4 separate regions of the Homo sapiens genome follow, and regions 1, 2 and 3 are each reported to be linked to region 4. The links are microRNA targets in miRTarBase. Many come from high-throughput screens and were not tested one by one. Region 4 holds a microRNA gene; each other region holds the end of a gene's coding sequence.
The links. Region 4 holds the annotated microRNA hsa-miR-548ae-5p (AAAAGUAAUUGUGGUUUUUG, at 4,411-4,430, opposite strand). A microRNA usually pairs through its seed, bases 2 to 8, with sites in the 3' UTR of a target mRNA and lowers its output. Matches are read on the target gene's strand: a 7mer-m8 pairs with bases 2 to 8, a 7mer-A1 pairs with bases 2 to 7 and ends in A, and an 8mer does both.

Region 1: miRTarBase lists PCMTD1 as a target of hsa-miR-548ae-5p. Seed matches in the 3' UTR shown: 7mer-m8 at 5,991-5,997.
Region 2: the mRNA of CCDC80 is a reported target of hsa-miR-548ae-5p. Seed matches in the 3' UTR shown: 7mer-A1 at 5,845-5,851, 7mer-m8 at 4,190-4,196, 7mer-m8 at 3,957-3,963 and 7mer-m8 at 1,768-1,774.
Region 3: miRTarBase lists CELSR3 as a target of hsa-miR-548ae-5p. Seed matches in the 3' UTR shown: 7mer-m8 at 5,460-5,466 and 7mer-m8 at 5,375-5,381.

Annotation. Positions count from the first base shown.
Region 1 is chr8:51,813,903-51,821,965 of GRCh38, forward strand. It overlaps PCMTD1 (protein-L-isoaspartate (D-aspartate) O-methyltransferase domain containing 1), which reads right to left. Exons shown (of 6, transcript NM_052937.4): 6 at 3,681-6,816. The coding sequence ends at 6,449. Among named protein-coding and RNA genes, the nearest start is that of PXDNL, 8.5 kb to the left of the region's middle.
Region 2 is chr3:112,598,603-112,606,665 of GRCh38, forward strand. It overlaps CCDC80 (coiled-coil domain containing 80), which reads right to left. Exons shown (of 8, transcript NM_199511.3): 8 at 1-7,161. The coding sequence ends at 6,815. Among named protein-coding and RNA genes, the nearest start is that of CCDC80, 39 kb to the right of the region's middle. RefSeq lists an enhancer at 5,286-5,455.
Region 3 is chr3:48,631,681-48,639,743 of GRCh38, forward strand. CELSR3 (cadherin EGF LAG seven-pass G-type receptor 3) reads right to left here. Exons shown (of 35, transcript NM_001407.3): 34 at 7,994-8,063; 35 at 4,783-6,552. The coding sequence ends at 6,525. It overlaps SLC26A6 (solute carrier family 26 member 6), which reads right to left and starts at 3,781. Exons shown (of 21, transcript NM_022911.3): 1 at 3,691-3,781; 2 at 1,797-1,955; 3 at 1,571-1,710; 4 at 1,294-1,404; 5 at 565-716; 6 at 200-364; 7 at 1-121. The coding sequence starts at 3,713. MIR6824 (microRNA 6824) reads right to left here and starts at 2,018; the gene lies at 1,956-2,018. RefSeq lists silencers at 3,220-3,319, 3,710-3,989.
Region 4 is chr2:35,467,787-35,475,849 of GRCh38, reverse strand. It overlaps MIR548AD (microRNA 548ad), which reads right to left and starts at 4,445; the gene lies at 4,364-4,445. It also overlaps the pseudogene RNU6-1117P.

The DNA of each region.
Region 1 (8,063 bases), not on the chromosome of region 4:
ACATAGCCAAAGCAAGACTAATTAAGCAAAAAGAACATATCTGGAGATGTCACACTACCTGATTTCAAACTATACTATAAGGCTGCAGTCACCAAAACAGCATGGTACTGGTATAAAAATAGGCACATAAACCAATGGAATAGAATAGAGAACTCAGAGAAATAAACCCAAATACTTACAGACAACTGATCTTTGACAAAGCAAACAAAAACAAAGTGGGGAAAGGACACCCTTTTCAGCAAGTGGTGCTGGGATAATCAGCTAGCCACACACAGGAGAATGAAACTGGATCCTCATCTCTCATCTTATACAAAAATCAACTCAAGATGGATTAAGGACTTAAATATAAGACCTGAAACTATAAAAATTCTAGAAGTTAACATCGGAAAAACCCTTCTAGATATTGGCATAGGCAAGGATTTCATGACCAAGAACCCAAAGCAAATGCAATAAAAACAAAGATAAATAGCTGGGACTTAATTAAACTAAAGAGCTTTTGCATGGCAAAAGGAACAGTCAGCAGAGTAAACAGACAACCCACAGAGTGGGAGAAAATCTTCACAATCTGTATGTCTAACAAATGACTAATATCCAGAATCTCCAACAAACTTAAATCAGTAAGAAAAAAACAATCCCATCAAAAAGTGGGCTAAGGACATGAATAGACAATTCTCAAAAGATGTACAAATACAAAAAAATTAGCCAGGAGCGGTGGCAGGCACCTGTAGTCCCAGCTACTTGGGAGGCTGAGGCAGGAGAATGGCGTGAACCCAGGAGGTGGAGTTTGCAGTGAGCCGAGATCACGCCACTGCACTCCAGCCTGGGCGACAGAGCGAGACTCTGTCTCAAAAAAAAAAAGTTGTACAAATGGCCAACAAACATGAAAACGTGACAAAAAAGCTCAACACCACTAATGATGAGGGAAATGTAAATCATAACCACAATGCAATACCACCTTACTCCTGCAAGAATGGCCATAATAAAAAAGCAGCAGACATTGCCATGGATGCGGTGATCAGGGAACGCTTCTACACTGCTAGTGGGAACGTAAACTAGTACAACCACTACGGAAAAGAGTGTGGAGATTCCTTAAAGAACTAAAAGTAGAACTACCATTTGATCCAGCAATCCCACTACTGGGTATTTACCCAGAGGAAAAGTAGTCGTTATACAAAAAAGATACTTGCACATGCATGTTTATAGCAGCACAATTCATAATTGCGAAATCATGGAACCAACCTAAATGCCCATCAATCAACGAGTCGGTAAAGAAACTGTGAGATATATATATATATGATGGAATACTACTCAGCCATAAAAAGGAATGAATGAATAGCATTTGCAGCGACCTGGATGAGATTGGAGATTATTCTTCTAAGGGAAGTAACTCAAAAATGGAAAAATCAAATACCATGATAACATCTATGTTCTCACTGATATGTGGGAACTAAGCTATGAGGTTGTAAAGGCATAAGAATACAATGGACTTTGGGGATGTAGGGGGAAGAACGGGAGGGGGGTGAGGGATAAGACTACAAATAGGGTGCAGTGTATACTGCTCTGGTGATGGGTGCACCAAAATCTCACAAAGCACCACTGAAGAACTTACTCATGTAACCAAATACCACCTGTTCCCCAATAACCTATGGAAAAATTAAAAAATTAAAATAAAGAAATAAGGCTGTTCTTGCTCATCACTATTCAGTTACACTGGAGGCCACAGCTGGCAAATCTGGTAAAATAAAAAAACCCAGAAGAAAAAAAATAAAACTGTCTAAAATTTATTCAAATATATGATTTCCTATACAGAAAACCTAAAAGAATCAAAAGAGATAGTACTGGATTTAATCAATGTACAAAAACCAATAAAAGGAATAAAATACAATTTTAATAAACTACAACATCATTGAAAAATATAAAATATCTGCAACTAAATCTGACAAAAGATATTAGATCTTAGAGCCAAACCATACTTAATAAGTCCTAACTAAAAAAAAGAGAAGTACCATATTCATGGACTGGAGGACTGCCTATCATAAACATGTTAATTCTTGCATAAACTGATCTATAAATTCAAAGTGATTCTCAAGGAACTCCCAAAGAAGAGTGTGTGTGTGTGCATGTATGTAATCTGAGAAGCCAATTCTGAAATTTAAAGTCTACAGTCTACAGGTTCAAGAAACTCCTAGCATATAAAGTGAAGGGATTTATCTTCCTAGATCAAGAATTATTGTAAATCTCCAGTAAATAAAATTGTGTAGTGTCGGCAACGGGTTATATAAACTGACTAATAAAACAAAAAAGAAAGCCTAGACACATAGCAAAAATATATGAAAACTTACGATAAAGTTAACACTGCAGATCAGAGAAGAAAAAAGAAACTTCAAAACATGGTCCTCAAACAGTTGATCAATAAAGTAAAAAAAAGAAACTGGACTATTAGTTCTCACCATACACAAACATCAATTCCAGCTATTGTGCAGATTTAAATGTGAAAGGCAAAATCACAGACCTTCTGTAAGAAAATATAGGTTAATATTTCCATGACCTTGAGACTGAGGGTGAAGGAAGATGAATCTGACAATTAAAATTGAAAATGTCAATTCATCAAAAAACATCATAAACAGAGTAAGAAACCATAAACTGAGAAAAGATACTTACAACACATATAATTGACAGTGGAATATATCTAGACTGCAAAAGGAAATCCCACAAAACAGTTTTTTAAAAGAAACTACCCAATAAAAAAATGTACAGAAGACTTGAACAGCACTTTGCAGAAAGGAATCCTAAAACCAAGAAACGCTTGAAGATAAAACCCCCTTAATAAATAACCTTTATAAGTAACAAAGTCCCCTAAGAAGATACGTCACACTACTAAACAGGCAAAAGTCTGTCATGTGTAGGTGAAGATGTGGAATAACTGGGACATTTAGACATTGCTAGAAGAAACATACTGTTAAACTATTTTGGGAAGCAAATTTGCACCATCTAGGTAAAAGTGAATAGAAATGATTTCCTATGACCCAGTAATTCTACTCCTAGATGTACACCCTAAGCAGACTCTCACACATGTAGTCACAAGACATATAAAAGAATGTTCACAACTGAACTATTCGAGGGAACAAAAAATGTCCACCAACAGTAGAATAAACTGTGAAGTGTGAATGTAACAGAACAACATACGACATGGGGCAATCTCAGAAAGGTAATGTGAAAAAGAGAGCTGCTGAATGCGTACAGTAGGATCCTAGCATATATGAAGCCAAATACATTGTTTAGAGATGCAGGCAGGTGATTGAGAACAAAAAGGCAGATTATGATAAACACAAAATCCCTCCTCCTGAGAAGGGAGGGATTAAGATGTGGATGGGAAGGGGCACACAGGAGACTGTAAAGCTATTAGTTGAACCTAATGGGTACACACACATGTACCTACATGTACACTAAATTATTTCTTATATTTCATGAATATTTTATAAATTTCCCTACCTATTTTATAAAAATAAATTTTAAAAAACTTCCATACTCTTCAGAAGTGGCAATAGTCAAAAGACAGTGAGATGTCCAAATAAAGACAATTGTATGCCATAATTGAGCATATCCATAGGTGTACTGAGATTGCCTAAATTTAAAAAGAAGAAGACAAACATAAAAGTCAGGCCATGGGAGAAAAATGCTTAATTACATGTAATTGTTTATTTAAAATAATTTTCCAAGTCTTCCAATGATTTAACAGGCTTTGCTTCACTTTTATCATCTCAAACAGCTATAAATCAACACACTTTTTGTATTTTATTTTACTACTATGTATGCTATTTTAATAACATTTTTCTTTATTAATACTAGAACCAAATATATTGACCAATAAGCAGTATAGATTTAAATTATCTTCTTGGGTTGGTCTGAGGTTGCTGATGGATTCTTGGGATTGATCTGATGCTAGAAGCTATCTTAGGCCCTGTCTCTAACTCACTGTATGTTTCAGGCAAAACATGCCACGGTTCTAGGTCTGTTTTCTCATCTGCAAAATAAACACCCAAATTAGATGATACTTACTGTTTTAACTAGCTATAAAATTCCAATACTATATTCCCCATCATTTTCACTTACTTTTACTTAATCTTTATTTGCTACTTTTCCACCTATAAAGCGTAATTTTCCATATCAAGTAAACATAAATTCATTAAAAAATAAACACAAACCCAAAATATTCTTATTCTAATATATCTGCATTAATAGATAAAAAGGCTTTAGCTTTAATTTTCATTTTTCATTTCTACCTCTTAAAGTCAATGATAAACTCACAAGTGTAAAATGAATGCATTTAAAAACATAAAAGATACATTTCAATGACAAGAAATATGCAATGATCATGAAAATCTACTGTACACTTTGCCATGGTCAAAGAATGAAGGACAATATGGAAAAGCCAATCTTCAAATATATCCTTAACAAAAACTCTCTCCTGCATAGTAAAAGCATCATCTAAACAGCAGCTCCAACCAAAAAAAAAAAAAAAAACAAGCAGGGGAGATGGGACAGATAACTTTCTCCAGGTTTTCCAGATAAAAACATGTGGTCACCAGGAATTCAAGGTAACTAGGTACTTCAAAAGCCACATTTAATTCAAAATAAAATGAGCATTTCTGACAGATGACAACAGTATGAAACTGATTTTTTTCTTTCCTAGATACAAAAATGATATGGGGCATTTCTTAACAGTTTAGTAATCGTCTAAGAATAATTGTAGAAATAACCCCAATTCCACCATCCCAGCCACTGGTATAAAACAAATACCTTCCATGAAACTGTCTTTCACATAACTAAAATATCCTCACTTACTTGGAACAATTTCATGCTTACACATGATCACAAACATTTGTTTTTAGATGTTGTGGAATTACTGGAGCTGAGATTTCTGAAACAATATCTGAATCTTAGCAGAGAGATAATAATCCTTTCACTATACATTGCTTGGGCTTCCTTAACCAAATCTGAGTAACTACTGTAATAATAATGCTGGTGGTAGTCCATGATACTCTCAAATTTTTCCCTTTAAGAAATATATAATCCATGTAACTCTAGCAAATATGTTACATTGTACACTTTCTTAACAAGGAATGGCTGTTTTCAGGCCTTATTAGGAAAACAAACAAACAATGGCAGTTACTACCTGTTTTTTATCACTGATAAGCTAAAATAAAGCTCAAATATGGACAGTTTAACTGTGTGATATTAAGTAAAAAATGAAAACCATTATAGTTTTACCAAAAGAAACACAAAAAATATGGGAAGGAGTGAAATGAACATGGCATAGGTCCCAAAGATTACACTATGATTCTGAACAGCATTTTCAAAACAAAGGGTATCTACATACAATTTCTGTGAATATTTCTTATACTAGATAGATCAAAAGCAAATGTAGGCTCAGCCCTACCTTGTCAAAGATAAATATTCAGATAAACTAGAAGTTCCATCTGCTAAAGTGCATCCGCTGACCAGGTCTACCCTGGCCCTGCTACTTACAGCCATCCAAGAAAGTGGCCTCACTCATGCTCATTCACTCGTTCTGTGTCCTATCAAGAGTCACACATAACAATGGTTTTGCTTTTTTTAAAAAACCAAATACTTTATACAGTGAACTACAGAAAAAACAATTCTAAATATACTTTTAAAATTCTATAGAGTTAAGATAACCTCATTTTTTTAAATACTGAAAATGTAAAGGGTCCATATAAAGAGTTGTATTAAGTATAGACTTTGTTTTAATAATTCACTTGCTGTGCTCTTAAAATCTCTATGAGAGAGGCAGATATTTTACCCATGTCTTTTGGCAAGAGATTCAAAAGCAAAAGTAGCAGGGCTGTAAAATTTCATAAAATTTGTGGGATTTTTTAAAGCTAAATTATTCAATATCTTGTATTGTTATTGCACTCATATATTGCCCGGAATATATATACAGCAACCCAACAACAGTGATTGCAACAAAAGTAAGGTAAATAGTCTACAAAGCATTTGACTTCCTTATTAGATAAATGAAGTTTTCATAGAGGAAATGCAAACAACTGCAATTCAGATCAGGTTATATAAGCTTAACAATTATTTAAACCATATATAAAATTAAATCTAAACCTCATCACTACAAATCTGTAAGGAATCAGAAAAGGATTTATAGTACACAAGTCTTGACTACTGTTGCATTCCACTTTGAAATCACTCTGAGCTAAAACAACATTTTTCCAAGATTTAAAGAAAAATAGATTTTATAAAAGGGATTCTTTTATTCACTGAATACATCATTTGTGTTACTGACAGAAACAAGTGATTTTTTTTCCACTATAATTTGCTCTGATGAAAGAAATAATTCTCTCTTTTAACTCCTAACAAATGCTACATTTTCAAGACTAAAGGAATTATCAGTAGGCATTTTTCTTCTTGATCTAAGTTATTTGTCTCTAAAATATGTCAAGTAAGCTTTTAAAGATTCAGGGAGGGGCAGCTTCATGATTTTTTCTCTCAGTAAATTTTGAGGTGGCTCCTCTGGCTTCATTGCTTCATTGTGATCTTTTTCCTCCTCTTCTTTGTTATCCTCTTCCATTTTTTCATCCTCTTCACTGTCTAGAGGCTGAGGAATAAGCTGATTACCCACAAATACGTAAGTGTTAATTCTCTGTTTAACTCTCTTTCTTTTCCTTTTGGGTGGAGCCCTTTGAGGAATCCCCTTGGCCTGCATCTCATCATTTATGAAATTTCTAAGTGTGCGTCGAATGTAAATACGAGCCAAGTCCTGTAGATTCCTGACAGCACAGGGAGCTAAAAACAAACATAAAACGCAAGAAAGAAAATATTAACAATAAAACATTATCTATTGTTTATTTTTTTCATAGAACAAAATGTGTTTCTTAGCATATTTTAGAAAATACAGAAAATATGAAAACTCTACCTTTCATCTAACAAAGGTTTTGGAGTAGTCATTATATGCCAAGGACCGATGGATGGCACTGAAGTTAAAATGTACAGGGGCATGTGTGTGTGTCTGTGTGTTGGCATTTACATGCATAAAAGTTCTCTGGAAGCATAAGAATTTGGAAACAGGGTACATGACTGTGAAGTAATTAGGAGACAAGACCAGGAGAGAGACTATCCTGTGTATCTTTTATACTTTTTGATGTATAAATCATATGAAAAGTACTACTTATTCATAACAACAGATGTGAGATCCCATCCCCTATGAAGTTTTTGTTTGTTTGTTTTGAAACAAGGTCTCACTACAGCCCAGGCTGAAGTGTGATGGCACAATCATGGCCTACTGGAGCCTCAACCACCCAGGCTCAGGTGATCCTCCTGCCTCAGCCTCCCAAGTAGCTGGGACATAAGCACACGCCAGCACACCTGGATAATTTTTAAATTATTTGTTGAAACGGGATCTCACTATATTGCCTAGGCAGGTCTCTTTAACTCCTGAGCTCATGTGATCCTCTCATCTCAGCCTCCCCAAATATTGGGGTTACAGGTGTAAACCATCATGCCCGGCCCTCTACATGTAAAAATACACAAAAACCATCTGCTCTGCCCATCTTCCAAAATTGTTCACTAAGTTATTTAACATTCATCATCAAGTAAGTATTAACCTATATCTGCCAGGCACTGTTAAAGAACCCATGCAGACACACTGGATGATTTAGACTACCAAGTCTGCACTCCCTGCACTTATGCAACTTGCATAATCAGGGAGGAGTTGCTAAACAAAAATCAATTATAAAGAAGAAAAATAAGGAATACAAGAAAAAAATCAAAACGCCAATGATATGATAGAAAGTGGGGTTCTGGTTTTGTTTTTTTTTTTTTTTGAGACGGAGTTTCACTCTGTCACCAGGCTGGAGTGCAGTGGCGTGATCTCAGCTACTGCAACCTCCACCTCCCGGGTTCAAGCGATTCTCCTGCCTCAGCCTCCCAAGTAGCTGGGACTACAGGCATGTGCCACCACACCAGTGTAATTTTTTGTATTTTTAGTACAGATGGGGTTTCACCATGTTAGTCAGGATGGTCTCAATCTCCTG
Region 2 (8,063 bases), not on the chromosome of region 4:
TTCTTTCTGGAAGGAAAGCACTGACATTTAAGCTCTGTGCGGTCTGCTCAGGGGCTGCCCAGTTTGTCCAAGCTTTAGGATATTAGAGAGATTACGCATTTGTGGTCTCAAGTTAGGAAACTGTTGAAGAACAAATATGTCCCTTATTAGAGGGCCTCTTTAGATGTTTAGGGTACTCACAATCCTTGCCAACCTGATGTCCTTGGAAGCTCCAGTCTGGCTGTAAGGAGATGATGAGGGGTTCTGTGTGTTGGAGGTGATGACCTCATTGAGTCTCAGCCACAGCAGGGCATTATGCAGGAAAGAATTCAATGGAGTTATTTAATACCTTTCCCTATTCCCACAAAAATCTGGAACTGGGTTCTGAACTGAGAAGTCTGGGTTCCCTGAGAATTGGACATCAGTTCAACCACAGGAAGCCTCTAAATTTAGCACTCTACTCACAGAGGGCCAAGAAAAATTCACAAATGTCACAAACTTAGGAACTTAGGTATCTAGTCTTCTCTGTCATTTTGTAATGAGAAACTGAGGCCCATAGGTAAAACATCTCACCTCCAGTCACACAGGTAAGTACATGGCAGGGCAAGGACAGGCACCCAGTTTTCCCAAGTCCAGTGGCCTTTTCATGATACCCATTTCTGTGTATCATTTCATTGATTTCTGTGACAGCTGGCCCTTTGCCCCTCATCACCAAATCTTAACTCTTTGGACTTTAATAATGTGCAAAATTAAGAGGAAGTCTGGCATCGGGAGCTTTACACAACTCAGAGAGAACTGAGGAAAGTAGTTAGCATGTTAACTGTGCCTCACCTTGACCTGAAGTGAAGAGCACTCACCAAGCCACAACCTGCTATCTGCACACCCCACACCATGAGGTAAAGGACAGCCAAGGAAGAGAAAGGAAAGAAAAGCAATCCGGCAGGGAGATCAGGGAGCGAAACGAACAGAGAAACGAACAGAGGTTTTTTCCAAGGGCCTTCTATTTTTCTACAATCTCCACACATTCAGTACTGAGACACATTAAGAAGGGCCCACTGAGGCCATCATTCACCCTACTCTCGGGCTGCTTCCATCCTCCAGGCTTCTAGAAGTTGAGAAAGTATGAGCTTCATTGTTAATTATATTACAGAAAATGGGACCAGCTGGGTTGCACCCACTCCCCTGTGTCTGGACCTCCTGCCTATGTAGCAGAAAAGGATCTTTCTGCTGAATTAATATTCACCTCAGAGCCCTGGGAGATGTCTGATGAAAAGTAGTTTTTGAAGAGTCTTGTGACAACCAGCAATTTCGGCAAAGCTATGTCCTCAAGAGTCTTCCAGATTTCCCCAACTCTACAGAATGCTTTTCTTTTTAAATACCATAATCCCATAATCTTTCTCAAAAATTATAAAACTGTATTTTATTTTTCTCATTTATTTGGGAGTTTGGTAAGAAACGTTTGGGAAGAAATGCTTTTATGGAGAAACTACTCAGATTTGAAACTACCTAGTTTATACTACCAGAAGACAGAGATTCAGGTTAGCTAGTTTGCTAATCCTCACAGTTTCAGAGATATGCCTTGTATTTTTCCAGATTATAGGCTTTGAGGACATTCACCAATAGCATCCTCCTCTGAATGTATTTTGGTCCTTTTGCTAAGCTATGTCTTATTTTATAGTCCTCCAAATGATGATCTATGACTTCTCTGCCTGCTCATTAGAGGAAGAAAAGCTCAGATGCATTGCTAACTATTATTTCAATGCCAGTGGAACTGGAGAAATGCTTGAAAAAGTAATCTCAGGTTGTAAAAAAGAACTATCTTTTTTTGGTTGCAGGAGCTAGAACCCTATTATTCTGAGAGTAAATTTTCTATTATTCCTATCTAATTCATTTTCTTGGGAGATGAAACTCCCTCTTTTTTTTGGTGGGGAGACAGGGTCTCACTTTGTCACCCAGGATGATGATGATGGAGTGCTGTGGCACGATCACGGCACACTGAAGCCTCGACCTCCTAGGCTCAAGCGATTCTCTCACTTCAGCCTCCTGAATAGCTGGGACCACAGACACACACCACCTTACCCAGCTAATTTTTTGTATTTTTTTGTAGAGACAGGGTTTTGCCGTGTTGCCCAGGCTGGTCTCGAAGTCCTGGGCTCAAGCGACCCGCTCACCTTGGCCTCCCAAAGTGCTGGGATTACAGGTGTGAGCCCCTCACTGCTCCTGGCTCCCTCATTATTATATTTCCTGAAGTTGACATGATTTGGGTCCTTTACTTAGAAATTGTCATCACACAATTTCAGAAAGGTAAAGAAATCCATTTTTATTGGCAACTTTGGGCTATGCTTCATCCTGGCAAAAATTTAAAAGCAGTACACTTCGACGTGGCTCACTTTCCTGCACACCTCAGGCAGCTTGTACAGACTATCCAAGAAAAAATGAGGAGGAAAGTGCTCCATCAAGGAAGAGGGATGAGATGGGAGCATAATTCACACACTAAGAACTGAGTTCTAAAGTCACTTGAGCTTTCTGGAGCTCAGTTACCTGTAAAACAAGGAAGAATGAATGGTCTTTATGGAAAATGAATGGCAGAATAAGTGATTTGTCAAGTTCATTGAACTATAAATTCCATTTTTACTGTCATTTATTTATAACAAAGTTCAGATATAAAGAAAAATCTGAACATACAGTAGGCACAGATAAACCTATAGCAAATATTCACATGTGGTTTGAATGCATTTATTAATCTCTGTACTTATTAGAATTAATAATAATACTAAAATGATTTGGAGAATTAATGATTAATAACAGTGGAAAATAGCCTTCCCATTATTGTTAGAGGATGGTGCCATCATGATGCTAAATGCCTATCTGAGGGGAAGCTCATAAATATTACTTGACAATATTACTTGATAAATATTTGTTGAAAAAAGAAATGTAGTAAAGAAGCAAGGATGGCTGGGCATGGTGGAGCATGGCTGTGGTCCCAGCTAACTTGGGATGCTGAGGTGGGAGGATTGTTTGAGGGAAGCTGAGTTTGCAGTGAGCCAAGATTGCACTACTGCACTGCAGCCTGGGTGACAGAGTGAGACCCTCTCCAAAAAAAGAAAAAAAAAAAGAGAAAAAAAAGAAGCAGCAGCAACGAAAGGAGGGAGGAAGGGAGAAAGTTTACTTTGATATGCCATATGATTGAAACAAATGCTCTTTTTTCAAAGACAAGGATTATACTCCTTTGCATTCCAGCTACTTTGGTCCATTGTAACTTGGTAACCTTTGCCTTGAAAACAAAAAGAATCCCTGGATATAATCTCCTTCCTTGTAATTTTTTTTATAAGATGCCAGTATGGTAATAGGTCCATTAGCAAGTAAGTACAGGCACATCTTATTTTATTATACTTCTCAGATACTGCATTTTTTACAAATTGAAGGTTTGTGGCAACCCTGCATCAAGGAAGTCTGTTGACATCATTTTTGCAATAGTATGTACTCACTTTATGTCTCTGTGTCACATTTTGGTAATTCTTGCCATATTTCACACTGTTTCATTATTATCTCTGTTATTAAAATCTGTAGTCAACGATCTTTGATGTTGCTATTATAATTACTGGGGGCACCATGAACCACACTTATATAACACAGTAAACTTAATAAATGTGTGTATGTTCTGATTGCTCCAACAACCAACCTTTCTCCAATCTTTCTCCTTCTTCTCAGGCCTCCTTAGTCCCTGAGACACAATATTGAAAGTAGATCAATTAATAACCCTAAAATAGCCTCCAGGTATTTCAAGTGAGAGGAAGTTGCAATCTTTCACTTTAAATCAAAAGCTAGAAATGAATAAGCTTAGTGAGGAAGGTGTGTCAAAAGCTGAGACAGGCTGAAAGCTAAGCCTCTTATGCCAAACAACCAAGTTGTAAATGCAAAGGAAAAGTTCTTGAAGGAAATTAAAAGTGCTACTTTGTGAATGCATGAATGATAAAAAAGTAAAACAGCCTTACTGCTGATATGGAGAAACTTTGAGTCATCTGAATAGAAGATCAAGCCAGCCACAAAATTCCCTTAAGCCAAAGCCTAGTTCAGAGCAAGGCCCTAACTCTCTTCAATTCTATGAAAGCTAAAGGGAGGTGAGGAAGCTTCAGAAAAAAAGTTTGAAGGTAGCAGAGTCTGGTTCATGAGTTTGAAGAAAAGAAGCCTTGTGCATCCATAAAAGTGCAAAGTAAAGCAGCAAATGTTGATGTAGAAGCTGCAGTAAGTTATCCAGAAGATCTAGTTAAGATAATTAATGAAAGTGGCTACACTAAACAATAGATTTTCAAAAGAGATGAAACAGCCTTATATTGGAAGAAGATGCCATCTCAGACTTACGTATCTAGAGAGGAGTAGTCAATGCCTCACTTCAAAGCTTCAACCAACAGGCTTACTCCTTGTTAGAAGTTAACGCAGCTGGTGATTTTAAGTTGAAATCAATGCTCATTTACCATTTCCCCAAATCCTACGACTTTTCAGAATTATGCTAAATCTAATCTGCCTGTGCTCTATAAATGGAGCAACAAAGCCTGAATGACAGCATGTCTATGGACAGCATGGTTTACTGGACATTTTAAGCTCACTTTTTGAGTCTTACTGCTCAGAAAAAAAAAGAATCTTTTAAAAATATTGCTGTTCGGGCCGGGCGCAGTGGCTCATGCCTGTAATCCCAGCACTTTGGGAGGCCGAGGCCAAAGTCAGTAGTTCGAGACCACCCTGACTAACATGGTGAAACCCCATCTCTACTAAAAATACAAAAATAAGCTGGGTGTAGTGGTGGGCGCCTGTAAATCCAGCTACTCAGGGGTCTGAGGCAGGAGAATCACTTGAACCCCGGAGGCAGAGGTTGCAGTGAGCCAAGATCGCACCACTGCACTCCAGCCTGGGTGACAGAGCGAGACTCCATCTCGAAAAAAATATATATATATATAATATATATTATATATTTTATATATGTATATAAAATATATATATAAATGATCAGTTCCAGACCACTATAATATATATATATATAGCTGTTCACTGACAATATACCCAGTCACCCAAGAACTTGGATAGAGATATACAAGGAGATTAATATTTTCGTGCCTGCTAACACAATACCTATTGTGCAGCACAGGAATCAAGGAGTCATTTGCACTTTTCGTAAGACTATAACTGTCACAGATTGTGATCCCGCTAATGGATCTGGGCAAAGCAAATTAAAAACCTGGAAAGGATTCACCATTCTAGATGCTGTTAAGAACATCGTGATTCATGGGAGAAGGTCAAAATAGGAAGATCAATGAGTTCGGAAACTGATTCCATCCCTCATGGATGATTTTAAGAGGCCCAAGACTTCATTGGAGGAAGCTCTGCTATAGACATAGTGGAAATAGCAAGAGAACTGGAATTAGAAGTGGAGCCTGAAGATGTGACTGAATTGCTGCAATCTCATTACAAAAGTTTAATAGATGAAGACTTGCTTCTTATGAATGAACGAAGAAAGTGATTTCTTGAGATGGAATCTACTCGCGTAAGTTGCTATGTACATTATTGAAATGACAACAAAGGATTTACAACATTACATAAATTTCATTAATAAAGCAGCAACAGGGTTTGAGAGGATTGGCTCCAATTTCAAAAGAAGTTGTACTACTGGTAAAATGCTATCATACAGCATCACATGCTGCAGAGAAATCTTTCATGAAGAAAAAGTCAATCGAAGTGGCAAACTTCATTGCTGTCTTATTTTAAGAAATTGCCACCATCACCCCCAACCTTCAGTAACCACCACCCTGATCATTCAGCAGCCATCAACATCAATGCAAAAAGATTATGATCATTAGCAATTTTTAGCAATAAAGTATTTTTAAAATAAAACATGTACATTTTTTGGACATAAAGCTATTATACACTTAATAGACTACTAAAGAGTGTAAACATAACTTTTATATGCACTGAGAAACCAAAAATTTTGTGTGACTCACTTTATTGCGATATCCACTTTATTATGGTGGTCTGGAACTGATCCTGTAATATCTCCATGGTATGCCTGTGCTGTACAGGGGGTAAAGTGTGAGGGGTCAAGAATTTTCATGCCAGAAATTCCATAGCAGCCTACTAGAACTCTGGAAGTATCGCCTTTGGCTGCAGTGCCAGATTCTGGTGAGGATTTCCTGGACCCCGATTTATATCTGAAAAAACACTAAAAATAACAGAAGCAGGGCAGGAAGTGGCTATGATAACAAAGCTGGGCTTGGTACTTTCTCTGGCTTTTGTGGCCAATATTACTGGACTCCCGTGGTATCAAGTTTCATAAAAGAAACTCATACAAAGCAGAGATATCTTAATTATTTTCAGACTGGCATTTCAAAAAGTGTCAATTTAAGTAAGTATTATAAGTTATTTGTTCTTTGTTTTATCTTTTCAGATGTTTCTTGAAAACATTGTGGTGTGATCTTTAACAGAGTTTTCACTTACCAATTAATACAAAAAATAAGAAAAAGCTTTAAATACATATTTTATAAAATTTTATATGCCAAATAAGGTCCTTCATATAAGAAAAGGAAAATAATATCAATTTTCAGTACTATTATTTAGCACTAGAGCCCCTCCAGTTAGAAAAACAATTCTTTTAAATGTCTTTATGATTTGAGGTTTCAATAATAACTCATGAATAGGTGAAAGTTTGCTATTTATTTAGTCTTAGAAAAACACTGAAAGAAAAAGGCAGGAAATGTAGTACGCAGTGTGGAAGAATGGAGCTGGCCACATGTAGTTTTAGCAGCTGCAGAGGAAACTGGCTGAGTCTAAGGTTACATATTTCTGCTCAGTAAGGGTATCCATGGTGATAACTCTCATGATGACGGTAGTCATCCTGGTAACCATCCTGGTATCCTTGGTGGTAACTATGGTAACCATAGCCTGCATACTCATCTTCTGGGCAGCGCATCCCCAGTGACTGCTGAATCGCCATTTCCTGTCTCCGAAGTTGCATCGAATCAATTAAATCGTACACAATCACCATGGACCACATTGGGGAAGGATACCAGGATTTGACATTTCCGTCTTTTCCGACTAGAAGCATGGAGAAGTACTCCGGGCTCACTTGAAAATAGTTACGAATGTCTTTCACCAAATGGGCTGGTACGTCTTCTCGCTCAACAACAGAGCTCCCTAGAATAACATTGGAATAGTTATTGTTAGTAGATTAAACAGTCAGAGCCCATGAAAACATTAAAGTGTGAGGAAATTACTGTGAGAATAGGGAGGACCCATGAGCCTCTTCTCTTTAGTTCAAAATCTAATTAAAGAAGTTTGCTGGGGCTTTTTCTACTAGAAATTAAATGTCCCTGCTTTCTGCAACACGATTAGGGTCAAACTTTGGGGCACTCGATGTGTCTTTTGTAGGAATGTTACAAAGTATAAAACCAATTCCTTAATTTAATCCTGGCAAGACTAATTTCTTTAAAATTTGTCACTAACAAGGATTATATAGTTTATCTTTCTAAGTTTATTTCCAATTAGCTTAGTTACTTCTCTGTAACTACAGCTTACCTTTTGACACATCTTAATGATAAAAAGCTTATTTCATTGTTAAAAGTGAAAATATCAATTCTGTTAAGATCTAGAGGAATATTTAAACTATTGTGAATAGTGAAAAGAATAGAGGGGAAGGAGAAAAGGAGCTGACACTTTCAAGTCTGCTGTGTCCGGCATTCTGCCAAGTATTTTACACACATTATTTAAAGAGCTTGGTCTTGGAAGAAAGGACTGGATTTGCTTTCTGAAAACTTCAGTCAAGAGTCTTTTTTTGTTTTGTTTTGTTTTGTTTTGTTTTGTTTTGTTTTGTTTTTGAGATGGAGTCTTGCTCTGTCACCCAGGCTGGAGTGCAGTGGTGTGATCTCGGCTCACCGCAATCTCCACCTCCGAGGTTCAAGCGATTGTCCTACCTCAGCCTCCCAGGTAGCTGGGACTACAGGCGCATGCCACCATGCCTGGCTAATTTTTGTATTTTTAGTAGAGACGGATTTTACCATGTTGGCCAGGCTGGTTTCGAACTCCTGACCTCAAGTGTT
Region 3 (8,063 bases), not on the chromosome of region 4:
GCTGCTGCTGCAGCTTGTCATTCAACAGCTTCACCACCACGAGCACCACCCCAGCCACAGCTGCAGTGACCACGGTGCCAACCTTGCTCTGGGGCAGCTTCCAGCAGACCTCCAGCACTGTCTGAGGAGAGGCCAGGTCACAGCTAGCACTCAAGGCCATGGGGCACACCTACCCCTCCCTCCCCCTACCCTCACTCACATAGATGAGGGACAGTGGCCCAGAGTGGCTGCTCAGATGGAGGCCAAACACATACTTGAGCTGTGAGACGAAGACCTGCACAGCTGCAGCTGTGGTATAGCCTCGGACAAGAGGTTCTGACAGGTAGGTGACCACGAAGCCGAAGTGGATCAGGCCCAGCCCCACCTGTGGGGCGGCCAGGGGCAGTCAGGAGAGGCAGGGGTCCTGGGGTTGCTAATGAGGAGCGCAGGGCAAGTGGGATGGGAGGGGGATGAGTAGACGGCAAGAGGAGGACGACGATGGTCAGACACTCAGGGGAGTACAGACAGGACAGTGGCGGGAGCAGAAGTGGTGGTGGGGGGCACATACTCCTGACTGTTCCACACCTGGAAGAGGCCAACCAGGACACTGAGTGTGGAGGCCACCTGTACCCGGGCAGCATCTCTGGCTGTCTCATTGATCATGGAGTCGTTCAAGGCCTGCGGGGCCAGGGATTCTGTCACACTGCCCACCATCACAGACATGACAGCAAAGGTCCCTGTAAGGACGGCACGGGGCAGGTCTGAAGAGGAGAGGACACTGCCCTGCCCTGGAGCCCTGGTCTTAAGAGAGAGGCCAGGAGACTTCCAGTTCTGGATAAATGTACTCAGATTATGGCTGCATGAACAGGGACAGTGCTGGCGGTTCAGGTTTGGCCAGGCCAGGAGTAAACCCTGAGCTCACAGGCCCTTAAGCATGGCTAGAAATGCTGGCCCTGTCTCATCTACCCTGTCCCACCTGTGTCTACTGGTCCCGGGACACAGAGGCTCTCTGTGGAGTAGGGAAGGGGTCAGGGCTGGCCTTAGGCTGCTCAGGCCTCTGCCAAGTTCCAGGCCCCTTGGGCTGCCTCACCCACTCTCATCTTCCTGGAGCCAGGGCTTTGAGGTCACCTGCCTCTGTGGTCCTACAGTCAGGGGTCTAGTCCTGCCTGGGGATGACTCGTGGGCTAGCCCAGGGATGCAGCACCAATGCTGCCCTCTTCCCCAGCCGCTCCTGCCCTGCTCAGTGCCCCCTCACCCTGCCCTCCATGATGGATGTGGGCATCCTCCTGGAAGGCTAGGCCTGCCTCCACTTACCCACGGAGATGTGCCGGGAAGTGCCAAACAGGAAGTAGATGAAGACAGGGTAGAAGGAGCTATAGAGGCCAAACACGGGGGGCAATCCAGCCAGGAGGGCGTAGGCCAAGCCTAGGGGTAGAATGGTAGCAGTGCAGGCCTGGAGAGCAGATCTTGAAACGATAAGGGAATCCCAGCCCTGGGTTAGGTGCCATAGTTCCAAGGTAGAGGTCATGGCCCCAGTTTTGGGCATCACAGACCACAGGGTTTCCAGGCCGACGCACTGAAGGTGGCTCACCCTGCGGAAGCTGCATGATGGCCACACTCAGGCCGGATAACAGGTCACCCAGGAGCCAGTCACGCACAGGATACCGGGGTAACCAGACCAAAACCGGGAGGTGTTGGAGCAGAAGGGCATAGGCCCGAGCACGGGAGCACCTAGGGACATGATATGAGGGGTAGGTGTCAGGAACAGGGGCTACCTGGGCCCCGCCAGCGCCCCCAGGCCCCAATCTTGGCCTTACTGCAACCAGGTCCGCCACTGGTGGGTCCTAGGTGCTGAGCCCCAGCGCCCCAGCTCCTCCAAATGCTCCTGGTTCAGCAGCGGCCGTTCCATGTGGTAGTCTCGCCTCCGCAGGTCCATTGCTTGTGTTGCAGACAGCAGTGCCTGTGTGTCCCTCGGTCTGGGGTGGCAAGACCAGAGAGACACAGTGAAGGCATCCCTGGCCCAACCTCCCCTACACCTCCACCTAGGACCAGAGAGTTACCTACCTGATTTTTCCAGGCCCTAAGATCAAGGTACAGTATTCCAGCCCCCAGCTGGCATCTGTGGGCCACATGTCCAAACTCAGACAGGGGCAGTACCTGAACTTTGGCTGGTGAGAAAGCCTCTTTCTAGGACAAAGTCCCCCAAGTAGGGACTGCAGGATGAGCACTAGCTATACCTCCAGCCGAGATGTGGCAGCCCAGTGCTGAGTGTTCTACCAGTCCAGGTCCCAGGCTGCTCCCTCCCCCACCCAGTCCCTCTCCAGTCCCCAGGTCCTCCTCCAGCTGCCCCGGGAGCCCACTGCTGGCTGAGAGCACACTCAGGGAAGGGGTCCAGCAAACCAGGGGTCCAGCTCCTCAAGCAACTCCTTTCCCAAGCCTCAGGCCTCAGATGAGACCCTCCCCTCTAAGGGAAGGAAAGTGTTGGAGCCAAGCTTGCCCCTGGGCCTCCAGCCCCAGGGTCCAGGTTGTAGACGGCTCAGGCCTGTTATGGGGAAGCCAAGGACTGGCTCTCACCTGAGAAGGAGCTTGCTCTTGGAGTGGCAATCTCTCACCTAGAGGGAGAGGCTCCCACATGGAAAGGGAAGTACCCACTTGAAGTGGGGGAAAGAGCTCACCTGGGAATAGAAGCTTTCAAGGGGAATCTCACCTAGAGGGATCTCTGACCTACCAGGGAATCTTTATCAGCCTGGCAAGTTCTGATACAGGGGGAATCTTCCCTCTGCCCAGAGGCACCTACTTGAAGTCAGAGAAAGATCTCACATGGGAAGAAAAGACCTAGAGGGAGAGGGTTCTCACCTGGGGGGTACTCTCCCATAGAGAAAGCTCTGACCTCGGGCGAGGCTCCCACGTGGAATGGGGAAAAGCTGTCACCTGGGAATAGATCTCACAGAAGGATCTTACCTGGGGGAAAACTCTAGCCTGTTGGGGAAGCTTTCACCAGTCAGGAAAGTTCTGATCTAGGAAAAGCCCTGACCTGGGGAGAGGATCCCATTTGAGGGACAGGAACTCACCTGGGAAGCGCCTCTAACCTGGCTGTACTGTTGGAGGAGTGTGGAGTGGGTGCAAGGAAGATCCTCAGAGACTCTTGGGACCGCTATCTCAAGGAGATCGTAGAGCCCCCTCTCCTTTCCTACGTGAGTCACTCAGGTCTTCTTAAAGGGCTCCCTCCCCCGACAACTTGGGACCCGCGTTTGGAGGGCGGAGCCTTGATCATTGGCCCCTCCCTGTAGGAAGGCAACTGGGGCCAGAAAGGCCGGAGCGCTCACTCCGGGATCAGTGGAGCTGGGTGGACTCGGGACTCAGCTGAAAGCAGCTAGTCCACGGGCCGCTGCCAGGGACTCCCGTGCCCCACGCACCCCCGCCGGCACATCTCCTGGCCGGGCTCCTCCGCACGCAGCTGCCTCCCTGTGGCCCGGGATGGCCCTCGGGCGTCACACCAGCGGCTTTCCGCACAGCCCAAGGGACTGGGGTCGCGCCGGCTCCCGCCCCCACCCCTTGCTGCAGAGGGGCAGCCGCCTGCAGAAAATCAGCAGAGGTAAACCGAGGCGTCGCAAGCGGAGAATGCCTGCTCCAGCGAGGCGTCGCAAGCGGAGAATGCCTGCTCCAGCGAGGCGCTCGCGCGGGGCCACCGGGAATGTGCGCTGAACTCACCCCGACGCATCCGCCAGCCCCATGGCTCGCAAGTTGTCCGGTGCGGGCTGCTCCTGCTGCTCGAGCTAGAGGCCGCTACGCTCCGGAAGGCGGCGCCGGGACCGGGTGAGGCCAGCTGCGCTCTCCCGGGGGCTAATCCCGGGGCAGGACGGGGAGGCTTGGGCCAATCAGCGCGCTGGGGCGGGGCCTAAGTGGCGCGCGCCGGGCGGGGAGAGACTGGAGAAGGAGGATTTAACCGCTTCCTCCCCGGCGACCTGGCCTATGAGGCCTCTCGCTGCTCGCCCGGCCCTCTGCCCGGAGCTGGATGGGACTGCAGAACTGGAACTAAGCACCCGCGCCGGGCTGGCCGCAGTCGCGCCCCCAGGCCCTGAGTAGGTTGGAGCTGATCCCAGGTCCTGGCTCGGCGGAAGGTGCTCACGGAGTGGGAAAAGGAAACTCCACTGGCCGGTGACCCCAGCCTTAACTCGTAGGGGATCCAGGTCTGTGGGGCCTCTCTTGCCTTCAGCTGAGAGCGCCACCCGCAGGCTTTCTGCGACTACGCATCTCTTTGAGACCCGGAGCCAACGGTCCCCAAGTCCTCCCCTTTAACTCTGGCCACCCAGGCCAGAAATGGTTGGAGGATCCCCTCCGCTGCACTAAGCACAGCCCGGACGTAGCTCCCAGAAGGTTACTGCGCGGGCCGCCGAGGAGAATGGTGGGGGTCAGTGCTGTTGGGTGGGCGTCAGTGCTGTTGGGTGGGCAAGGCAGGAACTGCAAGAGCAGTTCCTCAGGTTGGTTTCACCGCAGGTGAGGGCAAAAAATGCCGGGTCAGGGCTGCAGACCCTGAAGAATTAGGAAGTCCTGTTGCCGTTGCCTTGACCAGCGGGGAGGTTTTCCTTAGCACCTTATTTTCAGCACCTGTGCTCCAACATCAGGCCCCAATTACAAAGTGAGGGGCCAGATTTCAAGGTGAAAGAGATCTGCCATGAAATGGGCTAAAAATAGCTGGATATTCTTGGGAGGGGCTCAGATTCCTCCCAAAGGTCAGTCTGGCTTGAATCATTCACAGCTTCCATCCTACCTCCCCAGCCCCCAACAGGAAAAGGCAACAACTGTTTTCTATAGAAGTTTATTCCCAAAACAGAGCGCGGCTTCACGGAACAATTTACACAGACAGGAAAGAGGGCCGCTGGGCTGGAGGAGGGGAACCCCAGAGAGGGGCATCTACGAAACCTAGGACATAGTAAAGACACCCTCCCACCCCCAGCAGGCCACTCAGCCCTTCAAGAGCTGGGGTCCTTCTCGGTAAGGAGAGTTTGGGTCCTGGCTGGTGGGATTTAGCTCCAGTCAGGGAAGTAGAATTTCTAATCTCCCAGGAAGCTGCTTCCCAAGAGTATGCATGGGGTGGTGGGTGAGGAGGTGTCTGCACAGACCACCCCCCAGCCCTGCACAGCCACTCTCCCCCGTGGTTAGAGGACGCCTACTCTCAAGGTCTTCTGGATCTGCTGTTAAACGGGACTCAAGGCTGACCTTCGGCCTGGGAGACCTGGGGGTTAGAAAACCCCTCAAGATGGCCAGGTCAGGGTCCTCACAGGTGGGTCCTCCAAGTCCCTCTCCCACTTTCCCTACCTTTCACTTGGAAACAAAGGAAAAAAAATTATCTACTGTAAACAAAGTGTAAAACTCAAAGTTTTGAGTTGTAAACAAAGTAAAAACATTTTTTGAATCTGGACTTGTAAACAGTAACAAAATTTTAAAGTCTTCAGTTCTGGACAGCAGACAAAATAGCAAAAGTAAGAGTTTTGTGAACAGGGTCGTAACAGTCATTTTTCCCTTTTTAAGGGAATAAAGGAGGAGTGGAACGGAGTCACTTCCTGCAGCCCAGGTGCCTAGGGCCACGGAGGATCCTGTAAACATAGGAGGCAGTGGCACCTACATTCTGGGTCTTGAATTCCCTTGTTTCTGCTCCCTTTGCTCACCTTCCCACCCTACCCTTCGGAATCAATTCAAGCAGGGGGCAGTGTCAGGGAATCAAATGGCACCACAGACAACTTTTGCTTGCTGCAGGGGCAGGTGAATGACCCCTCCACCGACCCTCTGCAGGAATGTCTGACTAGAGGCCCGAGCCCCTCCCCGTGGGAGACAGGGAAGCCTTGCTCTGTAAACACGACATCAGCTGCTCCACCAGCACCCCACAGCATCAGTCCTAGGTCATAAGGCAGTAAGTGGCAGGGACTCCACATAATAAACACACACATCCACCAGGAGGGGCGGTATGAGCAAGCCCCCATGAGGAAGTCAGAGGACCCCTGTTTCCAAGACCAACCCCCAGCCCCAGAAGTTTGGCCTTTGGAGCATTCAATAAAAAGCAAAGAACAATTCTGTACTTTGGGCCCCTGACGATACTCAGATCAACTTGGGGGTGGAATAGGGGGAGGAAGGCATGTGTCCCACCCATCTGAGTCCACCCCAGGAAGGAGAGAGAGATGAGCATAGGGTTTGCTCAGGACCCAAATGGGGTCAAACTGCATCTCTCCCTCTATCTCCCTCCCCCTCCCAGCCCAGCCTCAAACCCCCCAGGAGACAGAAAAGCTGAAAAATAACATAAGCATCTCTCTGGTTACAAAGGTACAAAACGTATAAAAGTCTCCCTCCAGTCCCCCGTCTCTGCACCTGTCACACGCATGCTCACAGATGCACATGGAGCCTCAGCCCTGCCACACCAGGTAGAGCTGGGGCACCCACCACTGGGGAGCAGGAGGCTGCCTTGGGATCTGCCCCCACTCCTGGAGTCTCTCCTGTTAGCCTAGATCCTCTGTCGCCCTCAGCTGTTCCTCGTCCACGCCGTCATCCCCTCAGGAGTGACCCTCACTTCTGGGAACTCTGGAGGCACATGAGGAAATCAGAGGTTGATGCCCAGAGGACTCCGAGTCAGGCGGCTCTGGACTCCCCCACCACATTTGGCCTGGCTGCTTCCCTTGCCTCCACCACTGCTCTCGCCTCTTAGCCCCCAGCCCCTTCATGCCCACTCCAGGGTTCTCAGAGTCCTCCATTCCGCGCCCCTAGACTCAGCCAGGCTCCTTGGCTGCCCAGGTGTTTTCTCTAAGTGCTTCAAGAGCACCTACTGTTTACAGATGCTATATTGAGCACTTGACAGATATTATCTCATAGATTTCCACATCTCAAAGAGTTTGTTACTACAGACTTCTTTACAGATGAGGAAACTGAGGCCCAGAAAAGCTTGCCTCTGCCTAAGGTCACGCAGCTAGTAAGGTAAGACACAGAGCTCAAACTCAAACCTGTGCGACTCCAGAGCCTGGACCCCTGCTCAGTCCCTAGTCTACCTCCCAAACAGCCAGACCCCAAAGCTAGACTGCAGGGGGACCCAGGCCGTGGGTTAGCTCCCTCTGGTCCCCACCCCCAGCAGCCCTCAGTGCCCAAGCCCCAGGATCCCCAAACCCCTGCTCTTTCCTCCTTCCTTTGTCCTCTCTCTGCCCTGGGTCCTGCTCAGTTCTGTCGATCCCCTGCCCCACCCCTAGGGCCCCCTTCCTCCCCAAGCCATCTCTTACCCCACAAACCCCCAGAGCCTGACCCAGCTGTTTCTCCTCCTTGAAACTCAACTCTCCTCTTGGCTTACAAGAGACCTGGAAGCTCCTGGTTCCTCCCCACTCCCACCAGTCCCTCTCGGACTCCTGTGTATCCAGCTATTTCCTGGGTCTGTCCGCCATCCCCTTCCCCACAGATGCTTCACACATACCCGAGATGAACCAGGTTCCAACTCAGTTCCTGTGAGCCCCACCCCAAAGTGTCCACAGACAGGAGGAACTCAATGTTGACTGAATACATCGATGAATGAATGATTTATCCTCAACAAAGCAAGCCCTTCAGCCTGGTATATCCTGGCACCACTTCCAGCCTCTCCTTGTCCTATATGACCCCCTAGGCGAACCTTCCCAAGCAAGGCCTCCTGCTCTCCTCCCTGCCCCTTGCATATTCCAGGTCATCTCCCACTTCTAGGCCTCAGCTCCTGCCCTCCCATTCGCTAGCTCAGCCCATCGGATGGCACCTATTTCTCCTTAGCCTGGGAGGTGCTGGGAAGGCTGGCTGGCTCCAGTCACACAGCCAGCAAGTCCCTGCTAGTCACACCCCCATTTCTTGCCAGATTCCTGTCCCCAGCCTGTGGCCCTCTGGCTGTGCTGAGCCTGGGGTAGCCCACACCTGTCTGCCAGCCCTCATCCCCTTCTGTGGCAGAACACAGGGCAGGGCACACAGGAGGTTGCCCTAAGCTGATGAGGGTGCAAGCAGGTGGCTGGACCATACTTACTCTGAGTCTGGCGACAGCTCCGAGATGCTGTGAGACGTGGCAGAACGTGGCGTGGAGGGCCCAAGCACAG
Region 4 (8,063 bases):
TTTGCCCTTTAAAGTATTGCTTTCTGTGTCTTTTATCCCCGTTCATCCTTCCATTTTTCTCTGTTTACTTATTGTCCTTCATTACGTTATATGCCAAGCTCAGGTATTCAAATGTAAAGATTGGTAGGCAAATATGTCATGTTGCTTAAGGAGCTCTAATTTTCATTCTCAATCTGTGCCTTAAAACTAGAACTTTCTGAGCAATATTAATAAGAGTATTTAATTCAATTTGATATGAGGTATGCCCTGAAGAAGACACATTTACTCTGTTTCCGGACTGGTTCTTGTTCTCTCTCACTCCCTACTTTTTTTCAGGCTCTTTCAAACTTGTTATCTTTTAGTTTTTCTCTGGTTTCAAACCATTTACCCTCCTGTGGCCATTTGAAATCCTGCTTCTCTCATTTTACCCTCAATGCTTTCTATTCTTTGGTGTGTAGCTACTCTTTGGTTCTTGAGGTAACTTTATGTCAGCGAGTTCCAGTAACCATTTTGTTTACTTTAAGCCTCCCCTGGAAACATCCCACTAGACTGGTTCGCGCCCAACCCTCTGCAAGTAGCAAAGGTAAGGGATTGTTTATTCTCAGTCTGTATATAAATAACTAGCAACCCACATAGAAATTACATTGCCCTAAAGAAATGCGAAATAAGAGTTGGTTTAAGAAGGAAGCAATTGATGTTGGAGCTATATTGTAAAATAGTATTCATAGTGACATATTGGGTAATAATAATTTCACTATTTGAACAGCTGACTTAAGGAAAAAGAGTAGCTTAGTGAGGTGAAGTTCCATTCCTGTGAGATTCTTCGGTAAAATTCAAGTTTGCATCCAACTGATCATTGGTATATTGCAAGCATTTTGTGCTCACTGTAATAATGACAAGTAATGATATATTTTGTACTGTGATATTTAATATAAATAATCTGTGCTCTAAAAATTATTCCATTTTGTGTAGCTCACTTAATTTCCTAATATTAAAAAATCTCATTAAGAAAGCCACACTGGGAAATTAAATGCCTCATACATATTATAACACACCCTGCTTTTATCTAGAATTTACACTAACAGACAGTGGGTAAAACAACATAGAATCATACAAGTGATCCAAAAAATATTCAATTGGAATAGATATATTAGGAACGATGTAAAAATTTTAAATAATTTAGAAATAACAATTGATAATACTGTATGTAAAGTAGAATGTTGATTATAAGAAACACTATAATTCTCATTCCTAAATCTTTTTCAAAAAATAGGTGATTTTCCTGTACCTAGCAAGCAATTTTCTTGAATAAATAATCAGAGGCTTTTGGATCTGAAGGTAATTTTAGAAGTCATCTATTCAAAACCTTTAGAGATGAGAAAACTTCCTTCCCAGAGATTGATTTTTGGCAGGGACATATGACTAAATAACAGCAGAAAAAATAGGACTATACTGTATACATTTTGCTTTCCTGGACAATATTCATAATATTATTATTATCTTAGTAATATATTTTTTCTTAAGTAATTTGGTTTGAAGCTTTGAGAAAAATAATTACTATGAAAAATTTAGGGTATTACAAAAAGAGGTGAAGTTCAAGCCCAGAGATCCTGTCTCCAAGGCAGTTTTACTCTTTAAAAATATGATACCTAATAAACATAATTTCGATGAGGCTTTCTTTTATTCAGAGGGGGTCAGATTAACTATGCTTATGATAAAGTGGTGCTCTATTTTATTCTAAGTAAAATGTTTGCTTTAAGTCAGAAAAACATACAGAAAATGAACTTACCTCTTTCCATTTAAATCTAAAGCAGTTTGAACATTATAACTCATGACTTAAGAAATAATGATATTAATAAATAATTTTACCTAAAATGAAAAAAAATCACAAAAGAGATCAAATGGTTAAAATTACTTTGATAATAATTTAAACTTTAAAAGACAAGAGCACTAAATAATACAGTCCAATTCCTACATGAAATGAACCGAAATTTTGACGTAGGGCTTTTTGTAATGTTTGAAGTTAAAAGACAGAGATCCTCATTTGAAACTCCTTGGGGAAATAACTTCCTCAACTGCAAAATGCTCATGACAGACTAGGAATCACAAGAATATAAGACAGTCTTGCAAAAGCAAGAGTATAACATGGCAAGAGAATGAACGTGCAGAACAGAATATTGGTTACTGTTAAACTGTTAGATCCACTTACTAAGAATATAGGAGCATGAACACTGTAAAACTGTGCCAAAACTAATGACATTCGGATATTGAAAACATAGAACTCAGATTACAAAATCAGTTGTTCAGAATACAAATGGGTCAGTTGAATGAATTTGTAAATGAATAAAAATTTCATTCCCTAGGAAATATCAAATTAAAAAGGGGTTAGTCAAATATCTGAACGTGGACCAAGAGGATGTGTATGTCAAACTATTATGAAGTGGATAAACATATTATAGTACCTAAAGCAGTACTAGTTGTTCCTTTTTTTATGTGTAACAAACCAAATGAATTTAGTTACTGTTATTCCAGACCAGAAGACTGGAATACAATGACTCCTATCAGTTTACATTTCCTATTTGAAGGTAAAAGAGTTGTTTCTCTATATCATCTATTTGATCTTTCATTTCTCAAGATAAAGTTCACTGATTTCTGGAGGAATTATAAATAGAAGTAATCCATTTAGCTAAGACAAAAAAGACAATAGGACATATTGAAATTTTATTATAAAAAGAAACCAAATTTATATCCAAATAGAAAAAAAAGTTTCCTCATCATTCATGCATTATCCAGAAAATCTTAAAATTTTTAATAAAATTACCAGCCTCTCACCTGGGAATAGGTGTGTAAATATTTTATATGTTGTCTTTAACTTAATGAGTTATCATGGAATAGGAAGTTTTTAAGCCTGAATTACTCAGCACTATTCTACTTTTCCAATTCATTCAAATGTAATTTACTACTATTAAATTAGTATTAATTTATTTATTATTATACTTTCTCAATGGGGCCAAGCACAATGTTAAACATATGATATAGTTTTATTTATGTTTCATAATGTACGGTTTAATGGACACTAATAACCATTTGTGGATTTCTTGCATAATAATAACATACAGAACTCTAATAGTCATAGAAAACCTTCACTGAGTATTACCTATGCATCAGTGACCATAATTTGTCGTGTTCATGTGATATATTTAGCGATCTTCACAAGCTTATAATGAGGGAAATACTACCGGCATTATTCTTCTCAATAAAGATGAAGAAACAAACGCTTAGAGAGATTAAATAAGTTGCCCCAAGTCACTAACCCAGATATTAAGCAGCAATGTTGATACTGGTAGCAGACATGTCTGCCTCCAAAACCTGTACTTCTAACCAGTTAACATCTTTGTTTCTAATGTGTATGGCTTCTATGGGTACCCACATAGAATGGGTACATTGTTGAACATGACACATCTGTAGCCATGCTTCCCTCATTAGTCCATATCACAAAAGAAGAGTTGGTTTTCCCCATGTCTATTTCTCAACCCTCCGATTGTGCTCTGCCTTCTCTCTGTGTGTCAACTACTCCCAAATATTTAGGATATTCCTAGTTTTCTCCTCAGTGCATCACAACTCTGTATTCAGGGTTGTGCCTACCTGATAACCTTAACATCCATGCCATTGTTTCCCTTTTGATATGTGAGTTATCCTTAATAACTCATTCATGCTTACCACTCATATAAGTAAAATATGTCAATTCTAATTTTAAAGTAAAATACACCCACTTGTCTCTATCTTCATGTCTTCCTTCACTTTAGTCCAATTCATAGGCTTCTAAACCAGCCATCTAAAATCCCTTTGCCTTCATTTTTTCTCCTTATATTTGTTCTCCACACAGCAGCCAGGTTGACTGTTTTTTAAAACACACAAAGTTAAGCAGTTAACAGACTGGGGCCATACTCCACGATGGCTGGTTGAAGAAATTCACCATTCTGTAGGAACTAGGATTTGTATGGCTGCCTGAAGATCCATGAATATTGACTGCTGTGGAGCAATCCCCCTTCCCGCTCCAAATCCTGGTTTCTGCACCATGCCTCCACTGGGAGGGCCTCTCATTCTACCAACCGGCCCACCTCGAGGGCCTCCAGGACACTGAAGACAATTATCTCATGGGAAAAATATGGAACGCTTCATGAATTTGCATGTCATCCTTGCACAGGGGCCATGCTAATCTCTATATTATTCCAATTTTAGTATATATGCTGCTGAAGCAAGCACCAAACTAATTTTTTACGTGAGTAATACCTACATATAAACTACAACATACATGCACATAGACACTAAAACAGTACAAACATAGAGTGAAAAGTTAAAATTCTTCCCACAACTGTTGATTGTATTAGATTGGTGCAAAAGTCATTGTCGTTTTCGCCAAGTTACTTTCAAAAACCACAATTACTTTTGCACCAACCTAACAGTTGACACGTATGTGAAAATTGTTGTGTTTTGATCCTGGATCCTTATAGAATTCTTGTAACTTTGCTTTACCGCAACTGAGTACATTGACTCTTGGAATAAAAATTATATTTTCTGTAAAATATATGTTTAGGTTATTTATTAACTATATATAAATTTTCCTTTCGATTTATTGTATTGGCTAGATCCTGAAGATGATGCTGGGTAGACACTGTGAAAGAGGGCATCCTTCTGTTTTTCCCAATTTAATGAGAATGCTTCTGAAAGTTCATATATGTGTATTGAAGTTTTTAGAGGATTCCATTCATTAAACAGAGGAGTTGCTTTCTTCTCTCAGCATGGTAAATGTTGGGTCAATGAAAAAAGAAAATGTACTGTATACACACAATGGAAAACCCTTCAGCCATAAAAAAGAAGGAAATCTTGTTCCTGATGACAACATAAATAAACGTGGAAAACCTACGTTGAGAGAAATGTCAGGAACACAAAGACAAATACCACATAATATCACTTATATATGGAATCCAAAAAAGTTGAACCCACAGAAGCAAAATGGTGGTTTCCAGAAGCTAGGGGATTGGTCTAGCAAGATGTTAGTCAAAGGATACAAAATCTCAGCTGGAAGAGATAAGTTCAAGCATTCTATTGTATAGTATGATAACTATAGTTAACAACAATCTACTATAAGCTTGCAAATTACTGAGTACACTTTAAATTTCTCACTACCAAAAAAAAAAGTATGTGAGGTAATGTATGTATAAAGTAGCTTGATTTAGCCATTTCACAATGATTTGACAGATATAGCAAAATATCATCTGGAACACCATAAATAAATACAATTTTTATTCGTCACTATACAAAAGGAGCTGATCAATAGTAACAATTGTTGAAAATATTTTAACTGGATCTGAGACATTACGAATTTTTGTAGAAGTGCATTAGGGAAGTGCCTTAGGAAAGAAAATTTTTTTATTCCAGGTGTGGTTGATAGAGTTGAATTACAGTAACATTTTGTTTTAAATAACCTTTTTAAAAAATACATAGCTAGGTGTGGTGGCACAGAGCTGTTGTCCCAGCTGCTTGGGAGGCTGAGGCAAGAGGATTGCTAGACCCAGGAGTTTGAGTCTAGTCTGGGCAACATAGTGAGAACCCATCTCTTAAAAAATAATTACTTTTTTAAACCTAAGAAATTAGCTCTAGTTGGTCAAAAAGTATAATTATTTTAAAATTACTGCACTTATTTGATATATTTTAAAATGTGAGTATTTGTATTCATGTTCACATTGAACATCATAAATGAAATTTTCATCATATATGAGATTATTTTATAGTTTTTGTTTGTTTTCCTTTGCTAATTCTGTTTTGCATAAAGTTAAATGTCAGCTTCTAAGCATTCTTATTTCCCATATTTGTGTCTAGATTAAGAAAAGCAAATATTTGTTTTTTAAGACTTTAAAGTTGGTTAGAAGCAGTGTTTATGTTATAAATTAACCTTTCTCGTTCTTTACTTTGGTCATCAATATCTGGTTTATAAAAATAAATATTTTCAATATTTTCATAACTTTTTAAAGTTGAAAGCAAGAATTTAATGTTCTATACTCCTCTCTTGGTATCTTTAGCTTTAAAAAATACATATTAGGTTTGAAATTGTCTTTTGAGAATATCTTTGATATTTTTCTCTTGGATTTGATACATAGGGCTCTTATTTTTCATATATAGATGAGTGTACACAGATATGCATAGAAATTACCAAACTTTAAACATACATACAAGTGTGTATGGGAATAAATATGGGTTGTTTGGCCAAGTTTAAAAATTTCATTTATTCTTCATATTAAGCCAATATACGTGTATGATATCATTCACAGATTGATGGATATTTTCTTTGTGGCCTAATGTCATCAATGCCTTCCAATTCTATAGGTCTCATTGTAAAGAGTAGTTTATGCTTCTTTGGATTCAGAGTTATCCATGTATTTATTAAAACATATATATAGTTGTGTTATTCAAATTCTTTATTTTCTTCTTGGTCCCTCCTGTGTTCTGACAAGACCCTGTTATTTGTCTCATCAAAATATTTATCTCTGTTTGTATTAATTGCCCATGTATCTGTCATTTTCTTCTCTATTTTGTAAATACTCCTTGAAGGCAGTCAACATTTTGTCCCCAGTTTAGTACATGGCTCACAATAATTAGTATGTCAAGTATACTACATGGCTCACAATCATTCTCAATATTATTTGTTGAGTGAATGAACATTCAGTAATTGGCTGATGTTCACCATTATCTTAAGGGTTTCAATAATCTAGAACTTACTGTGAACAAACTTAGTATGAACCCGAACATTTTCTCATCCCACCTTGATGTCAATGGATTAATTCCTCATAAATATTAAACTATTATAAAAATTGTACGTGATTATTTTCTTTTTATTTTGCTGCAAAGCTAGTGTAGTTAGCTTTGGGGGGTTAATATTATTGATTACTTATTAGCTAATCCTGATGACTGAAACATAATTGCAGTTAACTCTGAATATTTAAAATATATTAGGAAATTAAGCAGATATTTAAGTTTAATAAATGATTTACTCCAGTATCTGATAGAACAATTCATCTCAGACATCCGTTCTCAGGAAGTCTTATACATTTCCCTGATTTGATCCTTCATGACTTCTTTTAGTTCGTGTGGAATTGTACACATTTTCTCAGCTCTTTGATGGAATGAGTCAGATTCTACTAAGACTGATATGCCCAGTTTCCCTTTGTGTCACTTATAGTTAGTCTCTTCTACCTCAGTGATATACAAAGAAACCCTGGGGGGCTTTTACCTCAATAGTAAAACGTTTCCACTGGCACAAGTTTTTCACTAGAACGGCCCACCAGTGAGCTTTAGAGCACATATAAAAGTTGTTTTCCCTGTAGCAGCCTGGCTGACTTTCCCTTTCATCGAGAACCCCAGGGATTTGATGTGAATCATTCCCATTGAGGTTAATTGGACAACACATTGAGAAAACTGGCCATAAACTCAAACATCATCTGCTCTGATGCTAAAGACCAAAAAGCACAATTGTAGTTTATTTTAATTGGCACCCTCCTGTGAAGGGAGAAAGAAGTCAATTATCAGATTATTCTAATTATCAGAAGCATGCAAGCATACCCCTGTGTTGAGAGCTTTTTTTCCTTCTTCATTCAACAACTATGTTGTTCCCTTACATTTTATTTGACAGAAAATATTTAGATTAATAAATACAGCCCCTATTAACTATTATCATATGTACTGAAATGGAAATAAAATATCTTTTAATCAAAATCTGGCTTGGATATTTTATTTATCAATGTAAAACTTAGTTCACTCATCCATTTCATATCTTGTGGACTTTTACTATGTGTCAGACATATTTACTTGAGAAACTATTTTTCAAATATACATATTTGACGCATATTTTTCTGGAGACATTTTTCCTGGTTTATGTTTATTAATTAGAAATACATAAGGAAGCCTAGCTCCTCTGCGAATGGACTTTATCTTCTGCAGCACCTGGGTGCAACAAACTCAGTCACCTGGAGACAGGAGTGAAAACTTTGTTTTGCAGGAAATATTACTGAAATTGTTTTAAAAAT